4 separate regions of the Homo sapiens genome follow, and all the other regions are linked to region 2. The links come from fine-mapping of genetic effects on gene expression. A gene starts in region 2. Each other region holds a variant in brackets. All regions are shown on one strand. Distances are between the middles of the regions.

Region 1 (7,942 bases), 28 kb before region 2:
TTAATTTAATTTAATTTAATTTTTTGAGACGGAGTCTCACTCTGTCGCCTAGGCTGGAGTGCAGTGGCATTATTTTGGCTCACTGCAAGCTCCACCTCCTGGGTTCACGCCATTCTCCTGCCTCAGCCTCCCAAGTAGCTGGGACTACAGGTGCCGGCCACCATGCCCGGCTAATTTTTTGTATTTTTTAGTAGAGATGGGGTTTCACCGTGTTAGCCAGGATGGTCTTGATCTCCTGACCTTGTGATCTGCCTGCCCCGGCCTCCCAAAGTGCTGGGATTATAGGCGTGAGCCACCGCACCTGGCCTGAATTTTATTTTTTATTTTTATTATTATTTTTTATTTTTATTTTTATTTTTTGAGACGGAGTCTCGCTCTGTCGCCCAGGCTGGAGTGCAGTGGCGGGATCTCGGCTCACTGCAAGCTCCGCCTCCCGGGTTCACGCCATTCTCCTGCCTCAGCCTCCCAAGTAGCTGGGACTACAGGCGCCCGCCACTACGCCCGGCTAATTTTTTGTATTTTTAGTAGAGACGGGGTTTCACCGTTTTAGCCGGGATGGTCTCGATCTCCTGACCTTGTGATCCGCCCGCCTCGGCCTCCCAAAGTGCTGGGATTACAGGCGTGAGCCACCGCGCCCGGCCGAATTTTATTTTTTTTAGAGATAGTGTCTCGCTCTGTTGCTCAGGTTGGAGTACAGTGGCATGATCGTAGCTCACTGCAGCCTCAAAATCCTGGGCTTAAGTGATCTTCCCACCTCAGCCTCCTGTGTAGCTGGGATTACAGGTGCAAGCCACCATGCTGGGCTAATTTTTAAATTTTTTGTAGAGATGGGGTCTTGCTATATTGCCCAGGCTGGTCTCGAATTTCTGGCCTCAAGCCATCTTCCCATCTTGGCCTCCCAAAGTGCTGGGATTACAGGTGTGAGTACTTCACTGGTCTGCAGCTTTATTTTTAGTAGCCAAAAATAGGAGCCAATCCAATGACTCAATAAATGAATGGCTAGACAAACTGAAGTATATTCATATAATGGAATGACCTCAGTAAGTGAACATTTTTTCAGTAACAGCTTTATTGAGATATAATTCACATAGGTAAAAATTAGCCATTTTAAATATGTAATTTTGTAGTTTTTAGTATATGTACGGGTTGTGCAAACACCATCACAATCAATTTGAGAATATTTGTATTACCCCACAAAGAAATTCTGTACCCTTTAGCAGTCACCTTCATTGCCCCCAGCCACCCTCACTCTGACCTGGGCAACCACTAATCTACTTTCTGTCTCTATTTGCCAATTCTGGACATTTCACATAAAAATGGAATCAGGCTGGGCATGGTGGCTCACACCTATAATCCCAGCACTTTGGGAGGCCAAAGTGGGCGGATCACTTGAGGCCAGGAGTTCAAGCCCAGCCTGGCCAACATGGCGAAACCCCATCTCCACTAAAAATACAAAAATTAGCTGGGTGTGGTGGCGCATGCCTGTGATCCCAACTCCTTGGGAGGCTGAGGCAGAAAAATTGCTTGAACCCGGGAGGTGGAGGTTGCAGTGAGCTGAGATTGTGCCACTGCACTCCAACCTGGGTGACAGTGACACCCTGTCTGAAAAAATAAAAAATAAAAATAAAAATAAATAAAAATGGAATCATACAATATGTGGGGTTGGTATGTGTGTGTTTGGCTTCTTTCACTTAGCTGAATGTTTTCAAGGTTAATCTGTGTTGTGGCGCGTATCAGTGCTTCATTCCCTTTTATGGCTGAATAATATTTCACTGTATGGATAGACCACATTTTGTTTATCCATTCCTCAGTTGGTGGACATTGGAGTTCTTTTCACATGTTGACTATTATAAATAATGCTGCCATTGGCCAGCTGCCGTGCCTCACATCTGTAATCCCAGCACTCTGGGAGGCCAAGGCAGGCAGATCATTTGAGGTCAGAAGTTTGAGACCAGCCTGGCCAACATGGTAAAACCCTGTCTCTACTAAACAAAATACAAAAATTAGCTGGGTGTGGTGGTGGGCACCTGTAATCCTAGCTACTCTGGAGGCTGAGGCAGGAGAATCACTTGAACCCAGGAGGCAGAGGTTGCAGTGAGCCGAGATCGCGCCACTGCATTCCAGCCTGGGTGACAGAGCGAGACTCCGTCTCAAAAAATAATAATAATAGGCTGGGCGCAGTGGCTTACGCCTGTAATCCCAGCACTTTGGGAGGCCGAGGTGGGCGGATCACGAGGTCAGGAGATGGAGACCATCCTGGCCAACATGGTGAAACCCCATCTATACTAAAAATACAAAAAATTAGCCAGGCGTGGTGGCGCATGCCTATAATCCCAGCTACTTGGGAGGCTAAGGCAGGGGAATCACTTGAACCCAGGAGGCGGAGGCTGCAGTGAGCCAAGATCACGCCACTGAACTCCAGCCTGGCGACAGAGCAAGACTCCACCTCAAAAAAATGTATAATAATAAATAAGGAATAATGCTGCTATGAACATTCATATACTGGCTTTTGTGTAGACACATTTTCTCATTTCTCTTGGGTATATACACTTAGGAGTGAAATTTTGGGGTCAAAAGATACCTCTATGTTTAAATGTTTGAGAAACTGCCAGACTGTTTTCCAAAGTGGCTGCATCATTATACAAGTCCACTCACTAGCAGGGTATGAGAGTTCCAATTTCTCCCTACCCTCACTAACAGTTGCTTTTGTCTGTTTTTTAAATTTTTGTCATCCGAATGGGTGCGCAGTGATATCTCATTGTGGTTTGTTTTTAGTAACAGCTTTATTGAGAGATAATTCAAATAGCGTACGACTCACCCACTTAAAGTACATGCAGTAATGTGGATAGATCTTAAAATAATTAGACCAAGTGAAATAAACCAGACAAGAGTAAGGACTTTTGAATAAAAGCTATGTTAACTGGAAATAAAAGAATAAATATTGTACGATTGTATTCCTATAAAATTCTAGAAAATATAAACCAATCCATAATTACAGAAAGCAGATAAGGGACAATGGGGGGTTGAGGAGAGAGTTTGGGGGAAGTTTCCAGGAAGAAGGGATCACAGGAGGACACAAGGAAACTTTTGGGGGCTGATATTTATTTTTATTATCTTTTTTTTTTTTTTGACAGCCTCTCACTCTATCGCCCAGGCTGGAGTGCGGTGGCATGATCTCAGCTCACCGCAACCTCCACCTGCCGGGTTCAAGTGATTCCTGTGAACCACCGTGCCTGGCCTATTTTCATTATCTTGACTGTGGTCATGGTTTCACGGGTGTATATGTATGTCAAATCTTATCCAATTACACTATAAACATGTAGTTTACTGTATGTCAATTATATCTCAGTAAAGCTATTTTGAAAGAATACAAAGGACTCTACAATATTCTGTCACCTCCCCTTTGTCATGTCACTATACTTTTACCCTGAAAGCTCCCTCCAAACCATATCCCTTAAAATTTATTTATTTATTTATTTATTTATTTATTTTGAGACGGAGTTTCACTCTCGTTGCCCAGGCTGGAGTGCAATGGCGTGATCTCGGCTCACCGCAACCTCTGCTGCCCAGGTTCAAGCAATTCTCCTGCCTCAGCCTCCCGAGTAGCTGGGATTACAGGCACCTGCCACCGCACCCAGCTAATTTTTTTTGTAGTTTTTAGTACAGACGGGCTTTCACCATCTTGGCCAGGCTGGTCTTGAACTCCTGACCTCATGATCCACCCACCTAGGCTTCCCAAAGTGCTGGGGTTACAGGCGTGAGCCACCGCGCCCGGCATGACCTCTGTTTTATACCATTAACTATGAGATTAACAAAAACCTTTACCTTTGTGCAGAAGGTTAAAAAAAAAAAAAGCATAGTCAAGGAAAAGGAGATGTGTTACCTCTTCATACACTCCTACAACCATGGCATTGCAAAAAATAAAAATAACCACCTT[T/A]AAAAAAAAACCTAATTTAAATTGCTGTTCAATAATAATAATATATGTAAGATGATTAGATCAGTTCCTGGCATATGGTAAATATAGGTAAGTGTTTGCTATTTATTTTTGAAGCAAAAATGAGGATTTGTCAAAAATTGGGTGAGCAGCTACTTATGGAGGATAAAAGAACCTTTCAGGCTGTTTGGGAAAAGCTTCATTCTAAGTTTCTTCTTTGTAAGAGGACCTATTGCTGCCAGCACTTCTCTTGCTAACAATTCTGGTGGGTGATTTATCTTCGTTCTGCATTTCTTTCCGTAGCTCCTGTAGACATTGAAGGTAGGGTGAACCTGTTACTAAGGGGAGATACAAAAGTAGTGCAGGGGGTAAGATTAATCGCATGGGAATGAAATATGCTCTGAGCTTCTGAACATTTGTTACGTGAACCTGAGGAATGAAATGATATACTGAGCACTCCACAAGCTGTTTTTTCCGGTCAGTTGTCTGGTCAGAAATTTGTTAACTCACTCCTCCCTGATTCATCACACTGTCAGAAAGCTTGTATAACACGGAGTCTGAAGCATTCCAGAATCTTTCTTTTTTCTTTTTTTTAATAGAAATGAAGTCTTGCTATGTTGCCCAGGCTGGTCTCAAACTCCTGGGCTCAAGTGACCCTCCCACCTTGGCCTCCCAAAGTGCTAAGATTACAGGTGTGAGCCACCACATCCAGCCTAGAATCTTAAATTTACTATTGTACTTTGGGACCACAAGAACTTAAAAGTAAGAGGAATAAAATTATCATGAATATTAGTTAGAATTCAGTTTGATAATAACAGAAAAAACCTAAAACACCGGCTGGACGAGGTAGCTCATGCCTATAATCCCAGCACTTTGGGAGGCCAAGGTGGGTGGATCACGAGGTCATGAGACCATCCTGGCCAACATGATGAAACCCCGTCTCTATTAAAATACAAAAAAGGTTAGCTGGGTGTGGTGGTGCAGGCCTGTAGTCCCAGCTACTTGGGAGGCTGAGACAGGAGAATCGCTTGAACCCTGGAGGTGGAGGTTGCAGTGAGCTGAGATTGCGCCACTGCACTCCAGCCTGGGCAACAGAGTGAGACTCCGTCTCAAAAAAAAAAAAAAAAAAAAAGAAGAGGAAGGGGAATTATTACATCAGAGGGCAATTAGCAATCATTTTTTTTTTTTTTTTTTTAGATGGAGTCTCGCTGTGTCACCTAGCCTGGAGTGCAGTGGCTCGATCTTGGCTCACTGAAACCTCCACCTGCCAGGTTCAAGTGTTTCTTGTGCCTCAGCCTCCCGAGTAGCTGGGACTACAGGCGTGCACCACCATGCCAGGCTAATTTTTGTATTTTTAGTAGAGACAGGGTTTCACCATGTTGTTCAGGCTGGTCTCGAACTCCTGACCTCAAGTGATCGGTCTGTCTTGGCCTTCCAAAGTGCTAGGATTACAGGCGTGAGCCACCGTGCCCGTCCTAATCATAGAAAGTTAATAATAAGATCAATATATAATTAGCATGTGACAAAAAAGCCTGGCTCCTAGGATTTGATTGTTTAAATTAAAAGATTGAAAAAAATCTGTTTGTTAGAAGGGGCATTGTTTAGCATGGATTCTTGGAAGAGGACACTTCTGGGAGGTGGACATAGGCATTGCCCATCCATGTATTGGGCACAAAGGAAATCACAGCCTTTAAATGACAAAACAACTTATAATGGAGATGTGGAGGCAGGAGGTTGTAACCAATGGGATGTGAGTACTCTGCAGTAAGTAACCTGTTGGTGAGACCACCTCTATTATAGGATGACTGGCCTAGGCTATCTTAGCCTCACCTGTTACCACTGAACCCTGGGGCTTCGTCTAATTTCCATGTGTTTTCCATGGCCACTTGGCAGTCAACTTTCTCATTTTCATGGCGACCTACCGACCAGAGAGAATATGCTGCAGAGAGAGACTTGTAGGGGAGAAGTAGCTGACCCTGTAACAGTCCCAATTATCATGGTCAATGAGTGAATTGGCAGCCCGGCGTCTCCCTCAGCCTCCTATGTCCCTTTTCCAATGTGAGTCTGTTCTCAGAGTCTGGTCCTCGCTGTGTATTGCCAGGGGTGAACCTGTGGTCCTTCAGGGTGGAAGTTCTGATCCTGAAAAGTGTGATTGCCTGGCCAGGCGCAGTGGCTCACGCCTGTAATCCCAGCACTTTGGGAGGCCGAGGTGGGTGGATCACGAGGTCAGGAAATCTAGACCATCCTGGCCAACATGGTGGAACCCCATCTCTACTAAAAATATAAAAAATTAGCTGGGTATGGTGGTACGCACCTGTAGTACCAGCTACTCGGGAGGCTGAGGCAGGGGAATCGCTTGAACCTGGGAGGCGGAGATTGCAGTGAGCCAAGATCACGCCACTGCACTCCAGCCTGGCGACAGAGCAGACTCCATCTCAAAAAAAAAAAAAAAAAAAAAAAAGGTGATTGCCCTGAAGGAGACTTTTCCAGCTCCAAACCACTTCCCTTAGATGACATCAATCAGCTCTCTGCTGGTTCGAAGAATATGTTGAAAACAGTGTCAGAGTTAGCTATTTTCATTTTATTATAGTTCTTTGAGAACTGGGAAGAGACAGTGGGAGTGTCTTGGAATATATATTAGGTTTGGTATCAAGAAACTGGTCTAAATTCTGTTATTGCCAGTAACTACCTTTAAACCTCAGTTTCCTCATTCATTTGTAAAGTGGAGCAAACTCATAGCTGTCTTGCTCGCCTTAAAGCTTTTAATGCAAATGGTAAAACTCCTTTCTAAAGTAGATTATTATTCTGTGAACACCTGTGGTATTCAGAGTTTAATATAAAGAAATACGATCAATATCCATTATAATTACACCTTGTTTACAACTTTTTTTTTTTTTTTTTTTTTTTGAGACGGATTCTCGCTCTGTCGCCCAGGCTGGAGTGCAGTGGCGCGATCTCTGCTCACCGCAAGCTCCGCCTCCCGGGTTCACGCCATTCTCCTGCCTCAGCATCCCAAGTAGCTGGGACTACAGGCACCCGCCACCATGCCCGGCTAATTTTTTTGTATTTTTTAGTAGAGACGAGGTTTCACCGTGTTAGCCAGGATGGACCTTGTCTATAACTTTCAAGCAAAATGTCTTAGTTGGTAGAATACTCAGCACCTGTACCATGTCAGATAGTTTACAGTACCCAGAGGCACTAAAACATGGTTTTTGTCCTCTGTGAGCTTGTGGTTTTCCCCCTAATATGTTCTCTTTTTTTTCCACAATGAAAATAGCTTTTAAAAACATAAATATCATATATGCTGGTAGAGAAAAATAGAAAAGTATAAGAAGAAAGTAAAAATCTCCTTAAGGCCGGGCACAATGACTCACACCTGTAATCCCAGCACTTTGGGAGGCCGAGGCAGGAGAATTGCTTGAGACCAGGAGTTCCAGACCAGCCTGGGCAACATAATATTTGTCTTATAAATTAACATACTGAGACCCTGCTTCTACAAAAAATACAAAAATTGGCCTTGGCTACAGGTGGTGCTTGCCTGTAGTTCCAGCTACTTGGGATGCTGAGGTGGGTGTATCACCTGAGCTAGGGAGGTGGAGGCTGCAGTGATCTGTGATCGTGCCGCTCCACTCCAACCTGGGTGACAGAGTGAGACCCTGTTTCAAACAAAACAAAACTCCTTCAAATCCATTGCTCAGAGGTAATCACTGCACATTTTGTTTGTTTGTTTGAGACAGAGTTTTGCTCTTGTCATCCAGGCTGGAGTGCAAAGGCACCATCTCGGCTCGCTGCAACCTCTGCTTCCCAGGTTTAAGCAATTCTCCAGCCTCAGCCTCCCTAGTATCTGGGACTACAGGCTTGCACCACCACGCCTAGCTAATCTTTGTATTTTTAGTAGAGACAGGGTTTCATGATGTTGGCCGGACTGGTCTCAAACTCCTGACCTCAGGTGATCCGCCTGCCTCAGCCTCCCAAAGTACTGGGATTACAGGCATGAGCCACTGCGCC
Region 2 (7,942 bases):
TCCCTTTCTGTTTCCATAAAAGCCATTTCTTCCTTTAGGTTCCATATCTCAAAAGCCTGGGTTTTCTTCCCTCTTGTCACACCTTGCAGCTTAAGTAATCACCATATCAAGATTCTTCCTCTGAAGTTCCTAAATACCTCTCTATCTCCATGCCCACCGCCAACACTTTACTCCAGGCTACCATCACTCCTCACCACGATTATTACAATCTTTTCTTATTTCTGTTCTAGCCACCTTCCCTGCCCAAGCCATTTCATGTCAAACTAGACTTTTTTTTTTTTTAAGACTAAGGAACAAAGAAACATGTCACTTAAGACATTTGCTAAGCACCCACTATGTATCAGGTAATGGCATGAGGTCACAAAGATGGGTTAAACACTGTTTAGCTTCATTTCTTACTCCTACCCAATGTCAACTCTATCCTTCAGCTACTTTCAGTCTTCAGAAGGTAATTTTTTCCCTTGCCTCCAGGCTTTCATACTGTTGCCTCTGCCTACAATACTAAACCCTTTGCCTAATTGCTTCCTATTTATCTATCAGTCTGGTCTCAGTTTAGACATAATTTCTCCAGATGGTGTTACCAATCTCTCTACTCTGGGTTAGGTATCACCTCTATTTTTTTTTCTTTTTTCTCCAACTGTTAGCTAAATATCCATGTGGTGTTTTAATAATTCCTAACCATAGAACTTTTAAAAATAAGTTTTATTGAAATATAGTTCACATTGCCATAAAACTCATCCTTTTAAAACATATAAAAAACATATGCCAGTGGTTTTTAATATATTCATGAGGTTTTTCTGAACATCGTCAATAATTCCAGAGCATTTATTTCCATCAATACAAAAAAAAACAAAACCCAAAACAAAAAACCAACCCTGGAAATGACCAATCTACTGTCTATATTTAGAATTTTGCCTACTCTGAACATTTTATGTAAATAGAATCGCGTAATTAATGTGCCTTTTGTGTCTGGCCACTTTCACTTAGCATAATTTTTCAAGTTTATCTATATTGTAGCATCTATCTGTACTTCATTCCTTTTAAGGGTCAAATAACCTTTCATTGTATGGATATAGCACACTTTGTTTATCCATGCATCAAATGACGGATATTGGGGCTGTTTCTGCCGTCTATTATGAATAATGCTGCTATGAATATGCACGTGCAAGTGCTTGTATGCACACACGTTATCATTTCTCTTGAGTATATACCTAAGTGTAGAACTGCTGGTTCATATGATAATTCTATGTTTAACATTTTTTTGAAGAGCTGCCAAACTTTTTCAACATGGCCGCACCATGATACAATCCCATGAATAGTGCATGAGAGTTCTGATTTGTCCACATTCTCACCAGCATTTATCATTTTTTAAATTTTAGTTTTTCTAGTGGGTGTGAAGTTGTATCTCATTGCAGTTTTGATTTGTATTTCCCTGAGGGCTAATGATGAGCATCTTTTCATGTGCATTTGTATATCTTCTTGGAAGAAATGTCTATTCAAATTCACTGCCCATTTAAAAAACTGAATTATCTGAGGCCAGACATGGTGGCTTACGCCTGTAATTCCAGCACTTTGAAAGGCTGAGGCGGGTGGATCACTTGAGGTCAGGAGTTCGAGACCAACCTGGCCAACGTGGTGAAGCCCTGTTTCTACTAAAAATACAAAAATCAGCCAGGCATGGTTGTGGGCACCTGTAATCCCAACTACGTGGGAGGATGAGGTACAAGAATCGCTTGAACCCAGGAGGTGGAGGTTTCAGTGAGCTGAGATTGTGCCATTGTACTCTAGCCTGGGCAACAGAGCAAGACTCCAACTCAAAACAAAAAAACAAAACACACACACACACACACACACACACAAAACAAACCCAAAAACTGAGTTGTCTTTTCATTGTTGAATTGTAAGAGTTCTTTATATACTCTGGATACTAATCAGTTATCAGATATGTTATTTGCACATTCCCTTCCATGTTGTGGACTGTTACTTCACTTTCTTGATAGTGTCCTTTGATACACACAAAAAAATTTGTTTTGAGATATGGTCTCACTGTTTCCCAGGCTGGAGTGCAGTGGCACAATCTCTGCTCACTGCAACCCCCACCTCCTGGGCTAAAGCAATACTCCCACCTCAGCCTCCTGAGTAGCTGGGATTAGAAGCACCCACCACCATGCCCTGCTAATTTTTTTGCATTTTTTTTTGTAGAGATGGAGTCTCATTTCATTACCCAGGATGGTCTTGAACTCCTGGCCTCAAAGGTAATCCTCTTGCCTCGGCCTCCCAAAATGCCGGGATTACACAGTTGTGAGCCACCAAGCCCAGCACTAAATTTTTTTTTAATGAATGAATGGATTAGGTAACCAAAATATCAAGTTTCTTTTTTCTGTCTAAAATTGTATCAACTCTGTGCAGTAACATTGTTTTCATCATGTTGTTGGCAGTTAAAAATTCCTTGACTAACAATTCAGAAGCAAACGAATGCACAAGATGATAGGGATTGTGTGATTTAACAGGTTTTGGAGCAACACTGATCTGGATTCAAATCCTAACTTTAAGAACTGTATCCTTGGGCAAATTACATTACTATTTTTCTTTCTTTAAAATGCGTTTTTTTGTTTGTTTTTTAAGTGCCAGGGGTTTATTTCCCTCACATGTGGGATGGCTCACATACACAACACACAAAGGCGTTGGCACCGTGGGAGAGGGCAGCACCCCTGGCTTCTGCTTGGCCTCACAGTGTAAGAAGGGAGAGGATGGGTTCTCTCTCCTCCCCTCACTAGGGCCTAGGGGACCCAGGAGCAAATTCCATCCCTTTCACCTCTCAGCCAAGGAGAAGCCACATTGGTGACATTTAGTTCCAACAATTACAGTAAGTGGAGAAGGGATTGGTCTGGTCCCGACCATTACACGGTGAAGGTATACATAGTAAAGGAAGATACAGTTTGGATGAGGCCACAATAGGGTGCAGATGACACCATCAGAAGCATGTGCAGGGGAGGGGCAGTCACTCAGCTTCTGGGCTGCTTAGTTCCTGGGTTGGCAGGAAGGGTAGGGAAGACGGATGGGGCTCATTGTTTGGCATTGATGATGTCTACGAATTCGGGCTTGAGGGAAACACCACTCATGAGGAAGGCAGCCACGTCAGGCTGGCTGGCCAGCTCCTTGCAGGTTGCCTTGGTCACAGAGCCTCCATAAATGATACCAGTGCTCTGAGCCACTGCATCAGAGATGTTGGACTTAAGCCATCCTCGGAGCTTCTTGTGTACCTCCTGGGCCTGTTGGGGTGTTGCAGTCTTGCCAGTACCAGTGGCCCACACGGGATCATAGGCCAAGATGACCTTGCTCCAGTCCTTCACATTATCTGCGATGACCTTTGTCTGCTCAAAAACAACCTTCTCAGTGATGCCAGCTTCCCTTTCATCTAGCTTCTCCCCAATGCAGGCGATTACTCCGAGTCTCTCTGCCAGAGCATGGGCCACTTTTCTGCCCAATCAGCTCATCTGACTCCCCAAAGACACGCCTTCTGAGTGCCCCAGGACCACACCACCCACGTGACTCCTAAGTCTTTGACCATGCCAGGGCTGATCTCCCCAGTAAAGGCCCCATTAGTCACTTTGTAGCAGTTCTGCGGAGCCACAGCAATCTTGGGAGCTAGCTTCTGCCGGGCCAACTCGTTATACGCAGTGGCGAGAGCACAAATCACCTTGGTGTCGGCAGGCACAGTGGCCGCGTTCTGAGTGCCGATGAGCTCCCCCAGACATTTCTTCCGCCCGTTCATCTTCCAGTTCCTCCCCACGAAGAACTTCCTGGAGGGCGCCATGGCGCTGGAGCTGAGGCGCTGTAGGTCAGTGTCAGCGCCTAAAACGGGTTTTATTAATACTTGGCAAGGTTGTTAGGCGGATTAAATGAGATCTTGTAACTACAGTGTTTTACACATTGTGATCATTTATCAAATAGCAGTTATTTACTAGTGCAAAGGACTAGCAGCAATGTTAATATCAATATACTGTTACCTTTTGTCCCTAATTTCTCCATAGTACAGTTTCCAATATTTCTGTTTTCTTTTGTGAATTGTTAGACCACTGGTATTGGATTCGGACAGAAAGGCATTCACAAAAATACAGTTCAATGTGAGAATAACCCTAAAGATGTATGCAAAATGCTCTGGAGTTAGAGCACCAGGAGCTGTAAGCAGAATGAAGACCTCTTTTGGGCTTAAGAACTAAGTAAAGGGGAGCTGAACAAAGATTCTAGGCATTTTGGATTTATCTCAATGTGGCACATATTTCAGGTTTGTAAAATAGTTCAGTTGACTACGTGTCTGTCTCCTCCACTAGAGCCAGCGTAGGTACCATGTCTTAAGTCATCTTTGGATCTCCAGTACTGTGGCCACTCTAGGGAGAGTTGAATTGACGCGCCTTGATCACCAGGGCAGAAAAGGATTCTCTGGAGAGGGATGGGGCAGTCGGAAGGGGTAGGAAAAACCTGGATCCGTTTCCAAGGAGCTGAAGGCAGCTCAGATATGGGGCACATCTCGGCGCTAATGTCCCAAGCTGCTAGCGAGGAACAGAGAGAACACCGGCTCTTCTTCCCGGCTCCTGGCCCGGCAGGGTTACTTCCGGGAGGGGGCGGGGAGACAAGAGGAGGCGTGCCGGGAAGGAGGCCGTTTGTAGTGTACCAGGCGGAAGTGTGCCAAAGGTATCGGTGCTGTCGCTTCCGGTCCGGGTAAACGAACCTTAGGTACACTGGTGTGTGGCCTCCCAAGATAGGCTTCTGAGGGCAAGTCAGCGACTGAAGACGGGAGCGCCAGAATCTGTGGACTCAAGAGTCTAGAATCAAGTGGAAAAACCGGAAAAAAGGCCAGGAACCTGAATACGACCTAATAGCTGTTTCCGAGGGGGCAACTTCCACGGAGAGCCTTCTGCCCTGGTAACGGCCAAAGAGGAGGAGATGGCGCCAGTCAGGGAGCGGCCGTGGCCCAGACAGTGAGGAAGCGCGAAGGCGGAGCAACCGAGGAATCCTCCGGAGAAGAATCAGAGCCGTCGCTACCGCCACTACCGCCACCACCATGGAAGGAGCAAAGCCGACATTGCAGCTCGTGTACCAGGCAGTGCAGGCGCTTTACCACGACCCAGATCCCAGCGGAAAGGAGCGCGCCTCTTTTTGGCTTGGGGAGCTGCAGCGTTCGGTGAGGGGCCCAGAGAGGCAGTTCTGTGCCGCACGGCCGGGGCGGGGTGGAACCTAGGCTCCGGGGGAGAACCTGAGCCCGGCAGTTGACCTCGTGAGGTCCTCCTTGGGGAGGAGCTGCTGTCGTGGGGTGGGGCTGCGAAGCTACATCTTTGCCGCTTTTGGGAAACTAGTCGCACCTGATCGGTCGCGAACTGGCCCTTTCCCCACCCGGCAGAATCTGATTTGTAGGTCTTATACTCTTCGATTGTGGCATCAATCTAATCTTGTTTAAGTTCTCCCTTTGCCGTTGCTTCTTGGGCCGTGCTTTTCCGTTTTGTCTTCCTCCCACCAAATCCAACCCCAGTGTTTCTCCACCTTCCGCTTAAGAAGGCTTTATTCGTCTCCCCTCCGTGTCCAAGACTTGCATCTGGCATTTTGCTCCCAGTCGTAGCCTTATGCCTCACTCTTTTTGCCTATTTTCACTCCAGTTTGAGTCTGTTCTTCTCGAAACTTCTCAGGTTTCTAGATTCTTACTCATGCGAGTTTTCCCCTTGCTTTGGAGTGGCAACATAATATGAAGAAAAAACAGTAATTCTGCTTTCAGAAAATCTTTGGAGTTCTCATTTTGTTTCATATTAATCCTCTAACCTTGTTATTTCTCTGGCTTTTAGATTTTTATTTATAAGATGGGTATCACTGCTGCTTTGATTATTCCATATAAAACTGTGTGTGCATCCGGTGAGATATTTAATTGTAGCTTATATCTGTTGTATTTCTGCATTCTTTGATTCATGTTTTATGCTTCCTGCCCTAATTTTCACACCTTTGCTGTGCTTCATTTCTGTGTAAATGTGTATTCTTGGTTATCTGGCTGACTTAGGTTCTAATGTAGGATGTACTTTAAAAATTAAGTACTTTGAAAACTAAAGAGGCTTTTTTTACAGGCTGACAAAATACTCACCTTTACCTTTATTTTTGCATTTTATACTCACAACCATATTTTTTTTGGCCCCCTTCCCTTTATTTTAACTCATAACTGATACTTAAAGGTGCTCTGCCTTATTAAATCAGCTCCTAGGCTGCAAGTGCATAATATTTAAAAATTTGCAACTTTGACTTTTTAAAAATCTGGTCTTGGTATGGAGCAACTTTGCCTTTTTTTTTTTTTTTTTTTTGAGACAGAGTCTCGCTTTGTCGCCCAGGCTGGAGTGCAGTGGTCCCATCTCAGCTCACTGCAACCTCCTCCTCCCGGGTTCAAGAGATTCTCCTGCCTCAGCCTCCCGAGTAGCTGGGATTACAGGTGCCTGCCCTGACACCCGACTAATTTTTTTTTTTTTTTCTTGAGACAGAGTCTGGCTCTGTTGCCCAGGCTGGAGGAGTGCAGTGGTGCTATCTCGGCACACTGCAACCTCCTCCTCCCAGGTTCAAGTGATTCTCCTGTCTCAGCCTCCTGAGTAGCTGGGATTACAGGCACACGCCACCACACCCAGCTAATTTTTGTATTTTTTAGTAGAAACGGGGTTTCGCCATGTTGGCCAGGCTGGTCTCTAACTCCGACCTCAGGTGATCCGCCCGCCTCGGCCTCCCAAAGTGCTGGGATTATAGATGTGAGCCATCGCCCCCCGCTGCAACTTTGACTTTGAATATTAAACCTAAAAAACTGGCACCCAAGTCCTCTTCAGAAAATAAAGGAATACGACTCACTGTAGGCTACACAAGAAAATCATTCACATATGGTCTCATTTAGTGTTTCTGTGATCTCTGGAGAGTCAACAATTCCCTGATCTTTGTATAGTTTTCTAAAGTGTAATTAGGAGAAGTGCTACACTATACTAAAAAAGTAATCTCTTTCTAATTAAACCTGCTTGTTGTGTGTATTTTAAATCAATATTTGAGTGCTTACCATGTGCCAGCAACTATGCTGGGTGTTTGGATTTGGAAATGAACCAGACAAAAATCTCTGCTTACCACAGAAGGTAGTTGTGATTAAATGAGTTAATATTCTACGAAGAGGTTAGAAAAGTTCTTGGAACATAGAGATTAAAATGTTAGCAATTGTTATTTAAGTATTAGTCACTTTTCTCTCCTTACTTTCCAATACTCTATTACAACCTTACATCATCTTCACCATCACAGTTAATAGTCAGAGTCCAGACAGGAACAGATGGCACACTTGACAGGATAATCTGAGTTTATTTTATAAAGATACTATTATAAAGATTTAGGTATAGTGGTGTGACAAGAAATAGTTTGGTAACCTATAGCTGAACGGTTAACATCCCATAAAAGAGGGAATAGTTACTTGAAAAGTATGGAGTTGGCTGCCTTGAGAGGAATGGTGACTTTCAGCCGAAGGGACATAGCTAGTTTCAGGTGACCTTGAGAGAATGAAGCTGGAGGAATGAATATCCTGACCCTGTTCTCTTAATTTCTTGCTGGGATTCCCCATTGGCCAAACCCAACCGGAAGCCAGGGGCACAGTGACCTGTTGGTAAAGTCTATACAGGTCAGCCTATTGGAGCAGAAAACATGATAGAGGAGGGTGGAAAAGTGGATCTGGAAAATATCCAGCAGTAACACATCACGTTTAGGCAACTTCAGCATCTGGATTGACAGTTCAGCTAACACTTTGGCCTTCTGATTCCTTTACCTCTTCATTCTCTTTAGCCACCTGGTCACACAATCACACCCTGGATCTTGTCTTTACTAAAAAGCCACCACCCAGGCTGGGCGTGCAGTGGCTCACGCCTGTAATCCCAACACTTTGGGAGGCTGA
Region 3 (6,040 bases), 120 kb after region 2:
GGCGGCGGGACCAAGCTGAGCTCTGCCCAGGCTGCGCCTCCCGCCGGTCCGCCAACCTGCCGGGCACTTCCGCGTCTTGCCGCCCCCGCCCCTGGGCAGCTGCTGCTGAGCTCCGGGCGCGGGCAGTGCCCCGCCCCGCCCCGCGAATCCACTCCGGGCCCCGCACTGACCTGGCAACTGCAGATCCGGGCTGAGCCTCGGGCCAGGCCCAGGGCCTCCAGGGAGATGCCAGACGGCGCGGTGCCCTAGACTGGCCACTGGCTCTTTTGGCAATCTGGAATGGCAAAACTGTCATTTGACAACCCCGTACCTCCCGCTGCAGTGCTCAGTTGGGCCCTGGGAGAGGGTGGGGTGCTTCCCCACTCTGGTCCTCCGGGGCTGCACACAAATGAGGGCGCAGTGTGGCCGACCCACAGCTCCAGGCCCTCCTCTCGCCTGCCTACACCCCTGGCGAGGGTGGCTCTCGCCCTAGAACACAGTCGCTGCCCCCAGGATCCAGACACCCCTTCCAGATGTGCTTGCAGGCGGGAATCCTCTAGTCACTCTGTGCCTTTCTCATCCTCAAACCCTGCACCTGTCTCGCCCCAGCTCCCCTAAGTCGCCTTCCAGTCATCCCAGGGGCAGCGGCGTGGTCGCCTGTCCCACCTCCTCTCACTACTACCTTGACCGTCGACCTGTGGTTCTGAACCGTTTTCGATTCCATAAAGAACCTCACCCCAGAACCTCCACCTTCACACACCTCCTGTTCCTTCTCATGGAATGTTCTTCGCTTGGTAACTCTTGCTCTTCAAAATTTCTGTTTCTGAAATTTTCAGCATCGCCTTCTCTGGAAAGTCTGCCTTGACTTCCCCTCCCAGGTGGGGTTCCAGGGTGCAAATAGCTTCCTGGTTGATTTTGCTTATGATTTTGTTATGGATTGCCAGGGGTTTGGTCCAGGTCTGGCTGCTCACCGCACAGAAAGCCTATCACTGAGACAGCGAGTATTGCCAGGGAAGACTTTATTCCGGTGACATCAGCCAGTGAGCTGTTGAGAGGGGAGACAAACCTCCAATCCATCCCTCCCCTTGACTAAAGTTAGGGGCTTATATAGCAGGGAAGGAAAACAGGAGGGACAAGGAAGAGGAATTGGTCAACAGGCAGCAGGTGTACTGATGTAAGTGTCTCAAGCTTCAGTTCTATGAGCATCTGGCTTTTTGGAAAATTCAGCGGGTTTCAATTTTGATGTCTGATTTCCACTCGAATCAGCTTACTCAGGAACCTCCCTCCTGTCTTTTCATTGTTCATTTTATTTTATTTTATTTTTTGATATGGAGTCTTGCTCTGTCACCCGGGCTGGAGTGCAGCAGTGCGATCTCAGCTCACTGCAACCTCTGCCTCCCCAGTTCAAGCGATTCTCCTGCCTCAGCCTCCCAAGTAGAGACGGGGTTTCACCATGTTGGCCAGGCTGGTCTCGAGCTCCTGACCTCAGGCGATCCACCCGCCTTGGCCTCCCAAAGTGCTGGGATTACAGGCGGGAGCCACTGCGCCAAGCAGAGCCTTGTATTTTTAACAAATAAAGTAGTATTTGTTGATGAATCAGAACTTTGACCTTCCCTCCCCTCCCTTCTCCTGGGTTGAACTTTACCTTTAACAAGTTAAAAAAAGACACTCATGTGTTAACGTTTTTTTTTTTTCTCTTCTGTATCTCTCCCTCTTTCCTGACCTTTGAAGCCCTAATATGAAGTCGAAATATCATTATATATAAGTATTTTATTATTTGTATCTGCTGAGTATTTCATTATTTCATATTTTTAAAATTTAAAGTATGGATGGGGAAAATGTGAATGGGTAGATCGTTTTATATTTCTTTCTTTAAAAATGAAATTGCTAGGCCAGGCACGGTGGCTCACATTTGTAATCCCAACACTTTGAGAGGCTAAGGCAGGCAGATCACTTGAGTCCAAGAGTTCGAGACCAGCCTGGGCAATATGGCAAAACCTTGTCTCTACAAAAAATACAAAAATTAGCCTGGCGTGGTGACACACACCTATAGTTCCACCTACTTGGGAGGCTGAGGTGGGAGAATTGCTTGAACCCAGGAGGCACACCACCGCACTCCAGCCTGGGCGTAGAAGTGAGATCTTATCTCAAAATAATAATAATAAAATGAAATTGCTATTTCAAAAGTGGCTCCCCACAAAATGGGAACCTTTTTCACTGGAGGTCAGTTATGCTTAATAGAAAAATATTCTATGCTGGTCGTATCTGGAGCAATAGCTAAGAAGAGCCTTCTTTTGTTATCAAATACTCCTCACCCATTCTGAGGGACCGTGAGACCCTAGAATTCTGCCCTCTGCCCCCTTCCCACTGTCCATCTTGCTCAGGTGAGGCCCCTTCCTTAGAGCCTCTGAACCTCAAGAAGCAGCACGGGCTGCGTGCAGAGAAGGGGCTTGCACCTGGCTTTGCTGTATTCCAGCCAAGTGGCCTTAAGTAGGACCTCAAATCTCATTTCCTCGTCTCTAAAAGGGGGATGATGTTACCAAGCCGGCAGCATTGATATGGGGCTCCCGGGATAGAGGCTATGCAGGGGCTCAGCTTGGCTCAGATCCTGACTTCCCTCAACTGAAAGAACCTGAGCCAAGAATCATCTGGGGCCAGAGACATGGCCCAGGAGAAAGGAAGGACAGAGAGCAGCACTCCAGTGTTTCCAGGATCTGGGATCCCTTGGCCTCCCAGTGCCATCCTGGGGGTGGAAGGGCAAGTAGAGGGGAAGTGAAGCCACACCCGGCCCTTGTGTGAGCACTCCCATTTCCCCTTGATGGGCCAGGAGGCGGTGGGGACAGGGAGGTCTGTCC[G/A]GGCCCCCCACTCCCCACAGTGAGATGGCCCCTTCCCCCATTTCCCCTGGCTGGAATATCACAGACTGAGGGTGTGGTAGGAGGCACCCTCCCCTGACTCGAGTAGAAGCTACGCTGTGTGAGCGAGTGTAGAGTGGGGTGGCTGGGGTGGGGAGCAGGGGGGAGGAGGGAAGCCGTGTCACCAAAGGGAACTGAAAGAAACCCAGAGGCCCACTGGGCAGCTGAACAATGCACCCTGGCTCTGGAACAGCCCCCTTCAGTGCAGCCTGGGTTGATGACAACTGCCTTTGCCTCTCAAAACCTCTACCCCAGGAAACCCACCCCCTCGGCCTGGGCTCTCAGGGGTCCCCAGGCTGACTGTCCTATTTCTCAGAAACCCCGAGTTTCTGAGAACTTGTTGGCTGGACATCAGGCTCTGAGGTCAACAGGTCTGAGTCAAATCCTCACTCTGCAATCTAGAATTGCGTGACCTAAGCAAGCCATTCACTCCCCCAGAAGCCCCATTTCCCATCTGTAAAGGAGAATGGTGACACCAGTGTCACGAATTGGCTGTGAGTCTACATTCAACAATGCTTATCGGGCATGTTGTACCTGCCAGGATAAAGTGGTGGACAATTTCTACTTTGTCTAAAAACCCCTGCCCTCCTGGAGCTTCCATTCTGCAGAGTAAGATAGACGATAAATCCTCAAGTAATGAAATCGGGTGAGGCCTTGAGGGGCACCTCACAGGCTATGGCTTTGCTAGGGACAGTCACTGAAAGGTTCAGATCTGAGGCATGACATAGTCTGATTTAGATTTTAACACCTCTTGGCCGGGTGGGGTGGCTCACGCCTGTAATCCCAGCACTTTGGGAGGCTGAGGCAGGTGGATGACCTGAGGTCAGGAGATCGAGACCAGCCTGGCCAACATGGGGAAACCCCGTCTCTACTAAAAAAAAAAAAATACAAAAGTTAGCCAGGCGTGGTGGTTCATACTTGTAATCCCAGCTACTCGGGAAGCTGAGGCAGGAAAATTGCTTGAACCCAGAAGGCGGAGGTTGTAGTGAGCCGAGATTGCACCATTGCACTCCAGCCTGGGTGACAGAGCGATACTCCGTCTCAAAAGAAAAAAGAAAAAACAAAAAAACACCTCTGGTTCTCGTACTTGAAGTGTTCACTTGCTTTGAAGTTTCTGGCACATAGAAGTAGTATCTTTTTTTTTAGGATTAATGCCCAGGGCGCCACAGCTGGGCCTTCCTCCCCATTTCTTACTAACACCGGCTCAGAGCTTTTTGGGGTGTGACCTGGAAGTCCCCCATTCAGCCAGCACTGTTACATGGACACCTCTACACTCGGAGTCTCCACCTTTCCCAATCCATGGCTCTGTCTTCACATGGCCTGTGGAGGAAGCTGCCCGGGCCCTTGCTCCAGGCCCCGACAGGTCACCTGTCCTCTCTGATGCCTGCAACCTGGCTCCTGCCCTTGTCGGTGGAATCTGTTCTGGCCCCACCCTGTCCTCCAGGCCTTGGATCCACAGCTCAAGCAAGCCCTGAAACCCACGGGAACTCCCCCAAAACTCCAGTCTCTACCTACCTCTCTCACTTAAACCCTCAGATCTTGGGATTTCACTCTTTCCTAGATTTCTCACCATCCCCTTTAAATAAACGTGCTGAAGCCCTCTCACTTTCCTCCGGGATTCCTCTCCCAGCTCAGCATCCTGAGTCTGCGCCTCTGTGCCCCTGTCCCCCGCGGGCCTCCAGGACACCGGCCCAGAGTTTCTCTCCTCCCCTACTGGCTGCACGTGGTCTGATTCAGTGCTTCTAAAACTTGCTTAGCTCAGCACTGTGCTCAAACCACTTCCTTCCCTGCTCCTGGGCTCTGTTACGGAAGGGGTGGGACATCCATCCTTCCTGCATGTCTCGAGGGCTCGCTGTGGAGCATGAGGCACCTGGACAAGGAGGAAAGGGAAAAGGACAAAGTCTAGCTGGAGACCCCAGCCTTCTAGGGCCACTGCTTTGTGGGGACAGATGCCAATCCAGCCCCACAGGCACCAGCCAAAGACCTCCGGTATGCACTTTTGTCCCAGAATGAGCCTTGTTGAAGCTCAGCATCTGCAGATGTCCCAGCCAGGCCCACGAGGTCCACCCGTCTTTGATGTGGGGTAAAGGGGGCCACCAGCCTCAGACTCTGAAGCATTTCTGAACCAGATCCATCTCAAGCCTCTGCAGCTTAGAACCAAGGCTAGGGCTGCTCCTGGGCAGGATGGTGGTCCCTCCCAGGTGGGCTCAGATGGGAAACGGGGAGAGACTAGATTCTCTCCAGGATGGCAGGGCCAGCCCAAGGGCATGGGGTGCTCTCCTCAGAGTGGTGGGGAGGTGACAGAGCTACCCTCTGTGGGGGACCCCTCCAGGGCTGACCCCAATACTCTCTGGCCTGCAGTCGCTGATGTATTAGGTCATGGGAGGGGTGTGGGGTATGACGTTCCTCTCGTGTGGCCTCTCGACACTCAACCATGAGGAGGCATATCCCGGCTGTCCCTCTCTGGCCCCTGACGGGTAGGGTGTGGGGGTGCGTTGCAAGTTGAGAATTTCAGGTGTGAGGCAGGAAGGAGAGGGAGCACTTGGGGGCTGGCAGCTGCACAGAGTTGCAGGGCCTGGTGTTTGGCTCTTGCCAGCTGCTCACCCCTGGGCCAACACTATGACCCTATGGGTCAGGCCTTGGGGGCTCTTGGTGGGGCACCCTCCAGGAGTCTGTCCTGTTCCCGTAGCCTCTGATTCTGGGAGCAGAAATTCAAGGAAGCGGAGAGCCTAGGGGCTGAAGAACCCTGGCGGGGACCATGGGCCAGGGCTCCCTCTCCTGTCTTGAGCCCTCTCAGGGAAGAAGAGGGTGTCAGGCCTCATTAGAGAGGGTTCTGGGGGCAGGTTCTTACTAGGCCAGTGTCCCGGAGCCTTGGTGCTTTGCAATTCTCCAAGCCAGGAGCCAACTGAACTCTGACGCCCATCCAGACCCCTGTGCCGGACAGACTGGGCCCCTGAGTGTGCCGGTGGACCTGTGGATTCAGGAACATCTCCACCGACCCATGCCTGTCTCGAGGGTCGGGTCTCCTCTGTGTCTCCCGGCCTGTCCTCCTCCTTTCTCTCCTGGAGCAGCACCTCCAAAGCCATGGGGATACTGACATACCCTGATAACCTGTCCAGGGCCGTTGCTAGGGAGTAGGGGTGCAGGAG
Region 4 (7,942 bases), 130 kb after region 2:
CAGTGTTTACACAACTCTCCACCTTTGCCGAAACTCCTAGAACCGTACACTAAAAAGAGTGAATTTTACTGTATGTAAATGTAAAAATTTAAAAATGTTTCATGATTCAGAAGATTCAAACTCTCAACGTCAAGAAGTTTTGGCTGGGCACAGTGGCTCATGCAGGTAATCCCAGCACTTTGGGAGGCTGAGGCAGGTGGATCACCCGAGGTCAGGAGTTTAAGACGAGCCTGGTCAACATGGTGAAACCCGTCTCTACTAAAAACACAAAAAATTACTCGGGCATGGTGTTGCGTGCCTGTAGTCCACCCTACTTGGAAGGCTGAGGCAGGAGAATCACTTAAACCTGTATAAAAAAAAAAAAAGGGAGTTTTTTAGGAAAAGCTTAACTAATTTATATGGTTTGTATTTTCCTTTGTACCTAAGCAAAAGACTTATATATGTTAACTGTTTTAAAGAAGTCTTTCAAGTGTGTCTAAAATAAAGATTTTAAGTAATTTTCTTTTTTTCTTTTCTTTTCCTTTTTCTTTTTTTCTTTTTTCTTTTTTTTTTTTTTGAGACAGAGTCTTGCTCGTGTCACCCAGGCTGGAGTGCAGTGGCACAATCTCAGCTCACTGCAGCCTCCGCTTCCCAGGTTCAAGCAATTCTCCTGCCTCAGCCTCCCGAGTAGCTGGGACTACAGGCACCCACCACCATGCCTGGCTAAAGTTTGTATTTATAGTAGAGACGGGGTTTCACCATGTTGGCCAGGATGGCCTTGATCTCCTGACCTCATGATCCTCCTGCTTCGGCCTCCCAAAGTGCTGGGATTACAGGCATGAGCCACTGTACCCGGCCCTAAGTAATGTTTTTTTAAATAGAAAAGAAAGAAAAAGAACAGATCCAAGAAGCATCCTTCACCAAGAGGCAAGGTAGTGCCGTCTTCTCTCCACTCTCCCTCCCTCCCTCCAGCCTGGCTCTTCTGGGCCATCCTCCAATTGTCCTGCCAGTCCCTCTTCTGCTTCCCCCACAGCTCTTGGGAGACTGAGCACTGTCTCCAGGGGTTTGGTGATGTCCAGGAGGCTCCCTGGCTACCCCAGGGACCCAGGCCGAGAGCCCACGCTCCAACTAGGTGGCTCCAGGTGAGGATCCTGGCAGGACACAGGTGATATTGGACAGAGGAGAGTTGAGTGAAGTGGACACTTGCAAAGGTGTAGACAGGGTTCTGAAAGCCACTGTGGAGTTTCCAGGCATCCAAGGCCTAGCATCAGCTGGGAACCACCTCCACCCTCAGAGGGGCCGTCCTTTGGGACCTGTGGCCCTGGGAACGTTGCAGGCAGAGGGAAGAAATCCCTTTTCTTCCATTCTGTCGCCCTCCTGTCTCTTGCCCATACCTCCTGGTGGGAGGGGCAGAGCTGGCCCGGGGACCGTGCGTGTTCTGAGTGCCCCGGGAGGCAGGCTGGTGGCAGCTAATGGGGGGAGGGAGTGCTTTCCCCCTGGCCCCTGGCAGGGCTGGGAAGGGCCTGACGCTGAGCTGGGCACCTGCACACCTGTGCGTGTGCATTCTCTGACCTGCATACCCCAGTGCAAGTCCTGGTCTGTATGTTAATCACCCCTCTTGCTCCAGGTATATCTCCCAGGAGACTCAGGGGTTTGGTGGAGGCCACGTGGGCCCACCAGCCTCGACTGTCCAAGGGTGCAGAGGCGGAGAAGGAGTGAGGCCCAGATCTCATGGGGGAAGACCTTGCAAGGGGCTCTGAGCCTTTGGGATCCAGGAGCCAGCACTGGGATTGGGGGTGAGGGCCAGGGTGGGAGGTCAGAGGCCTAGGGCAGGTCCTCTCCTCTGCGGTCTCCCACATGGATCCTCAGACACTGTACCCCCACCTCTACCTTGGACCAGCGCTTGGCAGGCAGCACCCTGCACTACTGTGTGGTGGATGCCAGGAAGCTGAGCATCACTGGGATGAGGGGCAGGGGCCTGGGGTGAAGATGAAAGGGCAGAGCTTCCCTCCCAATATGCACCCCACCCCCAACCAAGGGCTGAACCCTGGCCCCTCAAGCCCTCAGTCAGGCCCCTGTGGAAGTCTAAGTGAGTGGCAGGGCACCCTGTCCTACTGGGTGGACTCTGGTGTGTAGGTGATCCTGTGTCTTCACCTTGTCCCATGGCACACCTGCACCCTGGTCTCTGGTCTATTTCCAAAGATTTCCAGATGTGCAGAGAGTGGGTTCCAATAGGGACCCAGTACTTTCTCAGCAGGGCTTCAGCTGACCAGAGAAGGCAGAGCATTTCACCAGCCTCCACTCCCGATGCCTCCCCACATCAGATGCCCCTGCTCTGCCCTTCATCCCCTGTCTGCCTGCTAGCCAGTCCCAGCTCAGGCCTTGACACATTTTAGGATGTGCAAGGGAAGGGTGGGGCAGCTGCCATTCTCACTGAGCCCTGCCCCACAGTCTTATTGGCCCCTGGTGCAGAGAGGAGTGTGGACAGTTCAGGGGCTCACGATGGGAGGCATTCAAGGCATGGGACAGAGGTGGCAGAGGCAGTTGCCAGGGCAGCCAGACAGCAGTGGTGCCCAGACCCTAGGACACACCCTTTAATCCTCACCCCAGACCCCTGTCCTAGGGCCGGGACATCTATTCTGACTCATAAATCTGAGGTGATTCCCAGGGCCGTGCAGCCCAAAAACATGCCCATCAAAGCTACAGCCGCTGTATTGCTCACTGGGGCCACCTATGGCCATCTCAAGGCCCCAGTTCTCCTCCTTGGGGCTTCCTTGTCCAAGGCCATGCATCGCTCTTCAGGCAACTTTCCCGCTGTGGCCTCCGCCCAGGACCTTTGCTGTGGACAGCTTACCTGGATGGGACAGGAAGATAGTGTAGTACACTGCCCACAGGTAAGCCCTAGACCAAATATGATGAAAATCACTAAAAAATGTAGTTAAAAAAATCATTAAAGGAATTAAAATGTCCCACTAGAAATATTCACTTAATGTAAAAAAAAGCACTGAAGGAGAAATAGAGGAACAAAAAAGACATCACATGTTTAGAAAATGGCAGATGGAAATTCAACTATGTATATCGATAATGTGAATGGATTAAACCAGGGGTCCCCAACCCCTGCACCATGGACTGGTAGTCGTCTCTGGCCTCTTAGGAACCAGGCCTCACAACAGGAGGTGAGCAGCAGGCAACCACCTCCTGTCAGATTGTGGTGGCATTAGATTCTCATAGGAGGCCAGGTGCAGTGGTTCACACCTGTAATCCCAGCACTTTGGGAGGCCAAGGCGGACAGATCGCCTGAGGTCAGGAGTTGGGACCAGCCTAGCCAACATGGCACAACGCCATCTCTACTAAAAATATAAAAATTAGCTGGGCCTGATGGTGGGTGCCTGTAGTCCCAGCTACTCGGGAGGCTGAGGCAGGAGAATTGCTTGAACCCAGGAGGCAGAGTTTGCAATGAGCCAAGATCTTGCCTCTGCACACCAGCCTGGGTGACAAAGTGAGACTCTGTCTCAAAAAAAAAAAAAAAAGATTCTCATTTTCTCATAGGAGCTGGAACCCTATTGTGAACTGCACATGAGAGGGATCTAGGTTGCACACTGCTATGAGAATCTAATGCCTGATTATCTGAGGTGGAACAGTTTCATCCCGAAACCATACCCCCCCACCACCCACCACCACCACCCTCCACTGTGGAAAAATTGTCTTCCATGAAACCAGTCCCTGGTGCCAAAAAGGTTGGGCACCACTGGATTAAACAATCCAACCAAAAGGCAGAGATAGTCAGACCCAATTTAAAAATAAGATCTGTCCAGTTGCGGTGGCTTATGCCTATAATCCCAATACTTTGGGAGTCCAAGGCAGGAGGATTGCTTGAGGCCAGGAGTTTCAGCCTGGGTAACAAAAAGAGACCCCGACACTACAAAAAATAAAATGAAATAAAAATTAGCCTGGCATGGTGGCACACACCTGTAAGTCCTAGCTACTCAGGAGGCGGTAGTGGGAGGATCGCTTGAGCCCAGGAGTTCAAGGTTACGGCTAACGTG[A/T]TGAACCACAGCACTCCAGCCTGGACAACAAAGAAAGACATCTTATCTCCAAAAAATAACAATAAAATAAAAATAAATTAATTTAAAAACACACAAAATAAAAACAAGATCCAACAATATGCTGTTTACAGGAGGCACACTTTAGATTTAAAGATGTAAATAGATTTAATAAGAGGGTAGAAAAAAATGGATATCTACCATCGTGGTGGCACACACCTGTAATCCCAGCTACTCAGGAGGCTGAGGCACAAGAATTGCTTGAACCCAGGAGGCTGAGATCACGCCACTGCACTCCAGCCTGGGTGGCAGAGTGAGACTGTCTCAAAAAAAAAAAAAAAAAAAAAAAAAAGCTAAAACCAAATATGCATCCAAAACTCAAGCTGAAAAGTAATATTTCCCCTCCACTTTGAACAGCCCTTGAATGACCTGCAATTGATCAATAGATTTTGGAGCGAGAGAGCCAGCACACTGATCAGGAGCACTAACAAGGAAGTAATAGATCCCTGGAGGGTGAAGAGTGAAGCCCCAAAACTGGTCTCCAAGGAGTTAGATACCAAGAGTCAGGAGGACGTGCTGTGGTAGGAAGCCATGCATTAAGATTTTGCCCATTCTTTTGAAGTGATAACCAAGCGTAAAATTTTTGCAAAACTTTAGGAAAGTAAATGGAGGTATTATCAGAGTCATATGGCATCTGTTGTCCTAATGTTGTATCATACTATTTCATATTAATTTAAATTTATTGTATCATGTTTCATCATGTCACCAATTGTAATTATGCAAATATTATGTACCACTAAGAAAAAAAACTGCCAAATAAACCAATACAATATTTTTATCTGTGTTTTAACTTTTCTATTTAAATGGCCTTTTGAATTTATTTAGACAAACATGTTAATTATATATAATTCTTGTGAATAAACAAGGGGAAATGTAAGAGAAATAAAAAATTAAAATTATTAAAAATTATATATATATATATATATATGATGATGAAGGGGCTCAGAAGTTTATTAGTCAAACTTCCAGGCAGATGAGTAGAGCAGAGACAGAAACTCTACCCTAAACTAGTAGTTCACAGTGACTATGCTGATGCCCAGAGGTTTGTCCTGATCAGTTCTGAAATGTCTTGCAACGAATTTCTTACAGCAATAAACCACCAAAGTTTTTGAATGATTTACTTTTTAAAATACAGAATGTTGATTTATCGTTATCCACTTTAATTAAAAATGTTAATTACTCTGGTTTGTTTGATTTCCAATGTATTTCATATATATATATTATTTCCTACATATATATATAGCAAACAGCAACCATAAGAAAACTGGTGGGGCTGTATTACTGTCAGACAGAGTAGATTTAAAATTTTTTTAATTACTGAAGATAAAGAGGGACATTTTACAATGATAAAAGTGTAATCCATCAGGAAGATGTGATAATTATAAACATACATGCAACTAACATCAGAGCCATACTTCACACAATATATAAAAATTAACTAAAATGGATCAAAGACCTATATAGAAGAGCTAATACTATAAAACTCCTATAAGTAAATATAAGGATAAATCTTCCTAACCTTAGATCAGATAATGATTCCTTTAAAATGACACCAAAAGCACAAGCAACAAAGAATAAAACATAAATTGGATTTCATCAAAATTAAAAACTTTTGTGCTGCAAAGGACACCATCAAAAAAAGTGAAAAGACAACCGACAGAATGGGAGAAAATATTTGCTAACCATATGCCTGATAAGCAACTTGTATCTAGAATATATAAATAACTGTTACAATTGAATAATAAAAAGACAAAAAGACAAATAGCTCAGTTTAAAAGTAGGCAAAGGATCTGAATAGATGCTTCTCCAATTAAAATATATGTGTCTAATGAGTACATGAAAAGATGCTCAACATCATTACTCATTAGGAAAATGTAAATCGAAACCACAGTAAAATACCACTCACACTTACAGGATGGCTATAACAAAAAAGACAGATAATAAGAAGTATTGTCAAGAATGTGGAGAAATTGGAACCCTCACTTACTGCTGTTGTGTGTGAAATGTGCAATAGTGCAGCCACTTTGGAAAACAGTCTGGCAGTTCCTCAAAAGCTTAAACATAGAGGTCGGGCGTGGTGGCTCATGCCTGTAATCCCAGCACTTTGGAAGGCCGAAGTAGTCAGATCACTTAAGGTCAGTAGTTTGAGACCAGCCTGGCCAACATGGTGAAAGCCCGTCTTTACTCAAAATACAAAAATTAGCCGGGTGTGGTGGCACACTCCTGTAATCCCAGCTACTCGGGAGGCTGAGGCAGGAGAATTGTTTGAATCTGGGAGGTGGAGTTTGCAGTGAGCTGAGATCGTGCCACTGCACTCCAGCCTGGGTGATGGAGCAACACTCCGTTTAAAAAAAAAAGACAAAAAAAGCTTAAACATAGAGTTACCATATAATGCCACAATTCTATTCCCTGTTACAGATGAAAGCACATGTCCACACAAACTTTGTATATGAATGTTTAAGCAGTATTCTTCATAACAGCCAAAAAGGAGAAACAACCCAAATGTCTATCAACTGATGAATGGATAAAATATGGTATATAAATGCAATGGAATATTATTTGTCAATAAAAAGGAATGAAGTACTGCTACATGCTACAACTTAGGCGAGCCTTGAAAACATGCTACATGAAAGAAGTCGGACACGAAAGACCACATATTGTATGATCCTGTTTAAATACAATGTTCAGAATAGGCAAATCCACAGAGAAAAAAAAATGTAAATTTGTGGTTTGCTTTGGGAGAGGATAGGGTACAGGATTTCTTTTCGGGGTGATGAAATTTTCTAAAATTGATTGTGGTGATGGTTGCACAACTCTGTGAATATATTGAATTTTTTCTTTTTTTTTTTGAGTCAGGGTCTCGCTTTGTCACCCAGGCTGGAGTGCAGTGGTACAATCATGGCTCACTGCAGCCTCAACCTCCCAGGCTCAAGCAATCCTCCTACCTCAACCTCCCAAGTAGCTGGGACTACAGGCATGTGCCACTATGCCTGGCTAATGTTTTATTTATCTTTTTTTGTAGAGACAGGGTCTTGTTATGTTGCCCAGGCTGATCTCAAACTCCTGAATTTAAGTAATCCTCCCGCCTCAGCCTCCCAAAGTGCTGGGATTACAGGCATGAGCCACTATGCCCAGCCTAAACTATTAAATTGTATACTTTAGATGGGTAAATTGTATGGTATGTGACTTATATCTCAATAAAGCTGTTACAAAAAAGGGGAGCGCCCTGAGATCACCACTGGGTGCCAGGACATCTGGTGCCCTGGGAGGGCCCCAGCTGCGGTTTTGATCCACTGGCCTCTAACTACCCCCTTGCATTGGACGCTCCTACTTCATATTACTTAGCAGCAGCAGCTGCCATTCCATGGCCTCGGCTGCTGTCTAAGGTCCTGTTTCCCTCTAAACAGTGGGGTGGGACTTATGGTGCTGTGAGGACAGGCTGTTGTCCAGAGGACCCTTGGCTAGTCTTGACCCAAGCTCCTGAGAGATAATGTCTCCTCTGGCCAGCCAGCCGGGGAAGGCAAATATTGGCAATTCAGGGCCTGACTACTAACGGAGTCAAGAGAATAGCTGACAGGTGCTGAGCTGCTCCAAAGCATAGGGCCCTTGGCAGGTGTAGGCTATACGCCCTCCTCACCCAGCCCCCAGGCTGCTCAACGCCAACAGGTTTGTCTGTTGGGGGTCTGAATTCTGCAGCCACAAATCAAGATCACAGGAGCAGGGGCCAAAGGGGCTTCTGAGTCTCAGGACCGCCCCCCAACCCAATTCCTGGGCACTGCATATGGTTTGAGGCAGTTAGAGGAGAGACCCCCTGTGTGTGCCCATCCAAATAACCCCCAGGGCCATTCTCCCCACCAAAA

Alleles and levels. Positions count from the first base shown, and alleles are read on the strand shown. Sizes are in standard deviations (SD) of each study's normalised expression. Not every link is listed here.
In carriers of allele A in region 3, the expression in testis of the gene that starts at base 4,725 in region 2 tends to be higher than with G alone (small effect, 0.27 SD a copy in GTEx).

Evidence for each region. PIP is the estimated chance that this variant, and not a neighbour inherited with it, causes the effect.
Region 1: its variant is fine-mapped to the expression of TNPO3 in whole blood (INTERVAL, PIP above 0.99).
Region 3: its variant is fine-mapped to the expression of TNPO3 in testis (GTEx, PIP 0.96).
Region 4: its variant is fine-mapped to the expression of TNPO3 in whole blood (INTERVAL, PIP 0.93).

What each region holds. Positions count from the first base shown.
Region 1 is chr7:129,080,201-129,088,142 of GRCh38, reverse strand. No RefSeq gene overlaps it. Among named protein-coding and RNA genes, the nearest start is that of TNPO3, 29 kb to the right of the region's middle. The variant T/A (reference allele first, on the strand shown) is at 3,938.
Region 2 is chr7:129,051,894-129,059,835 of GRCh38, reverse strand. TNPO3 (transportin 3) reads left to right here and starts at 4,725. Exons shown (of 23, transcript NM_012470.4): 1 at 4,725-5,185. The coding sequence starts at 5,066. It also overlaps the pseudogene TPI1P2. RefSeq lists a silencer at 3,587-3,881 and enhancers at 3,587-3,881, 4,693-5,192.
Region 3 is chr7:128,931,965-128,938,004 of GRCh38, reverse strand. It overlaps IRF5 (interferon regulatory factor 5), which reads right to left and starts at 78. Exons shown (of 9, transcript NM_001098629.3): 1 at 1-78. RefSeq lists silencers at 1-211, 2,946-3,035 and enhancers at 1,456-1,750, 3,166-3,285, 3,556-3,605, 4,187-4,356. The variant G/A (reference allele first, on the strand shown) is at 2,835.
Region 4 is chr7:128,923,089-128,931,030 of GRCh38, reverse strand. No RefSeq gene overlaps it. Among named protein-coding and RNA genes, the nearest start is that of IRF5, 11 kb to the left of the region's middle. RefSeq lists an enhancer at 1,278-1,778. The variant A/T (reference allele first, on the strand shown) is at 4,026.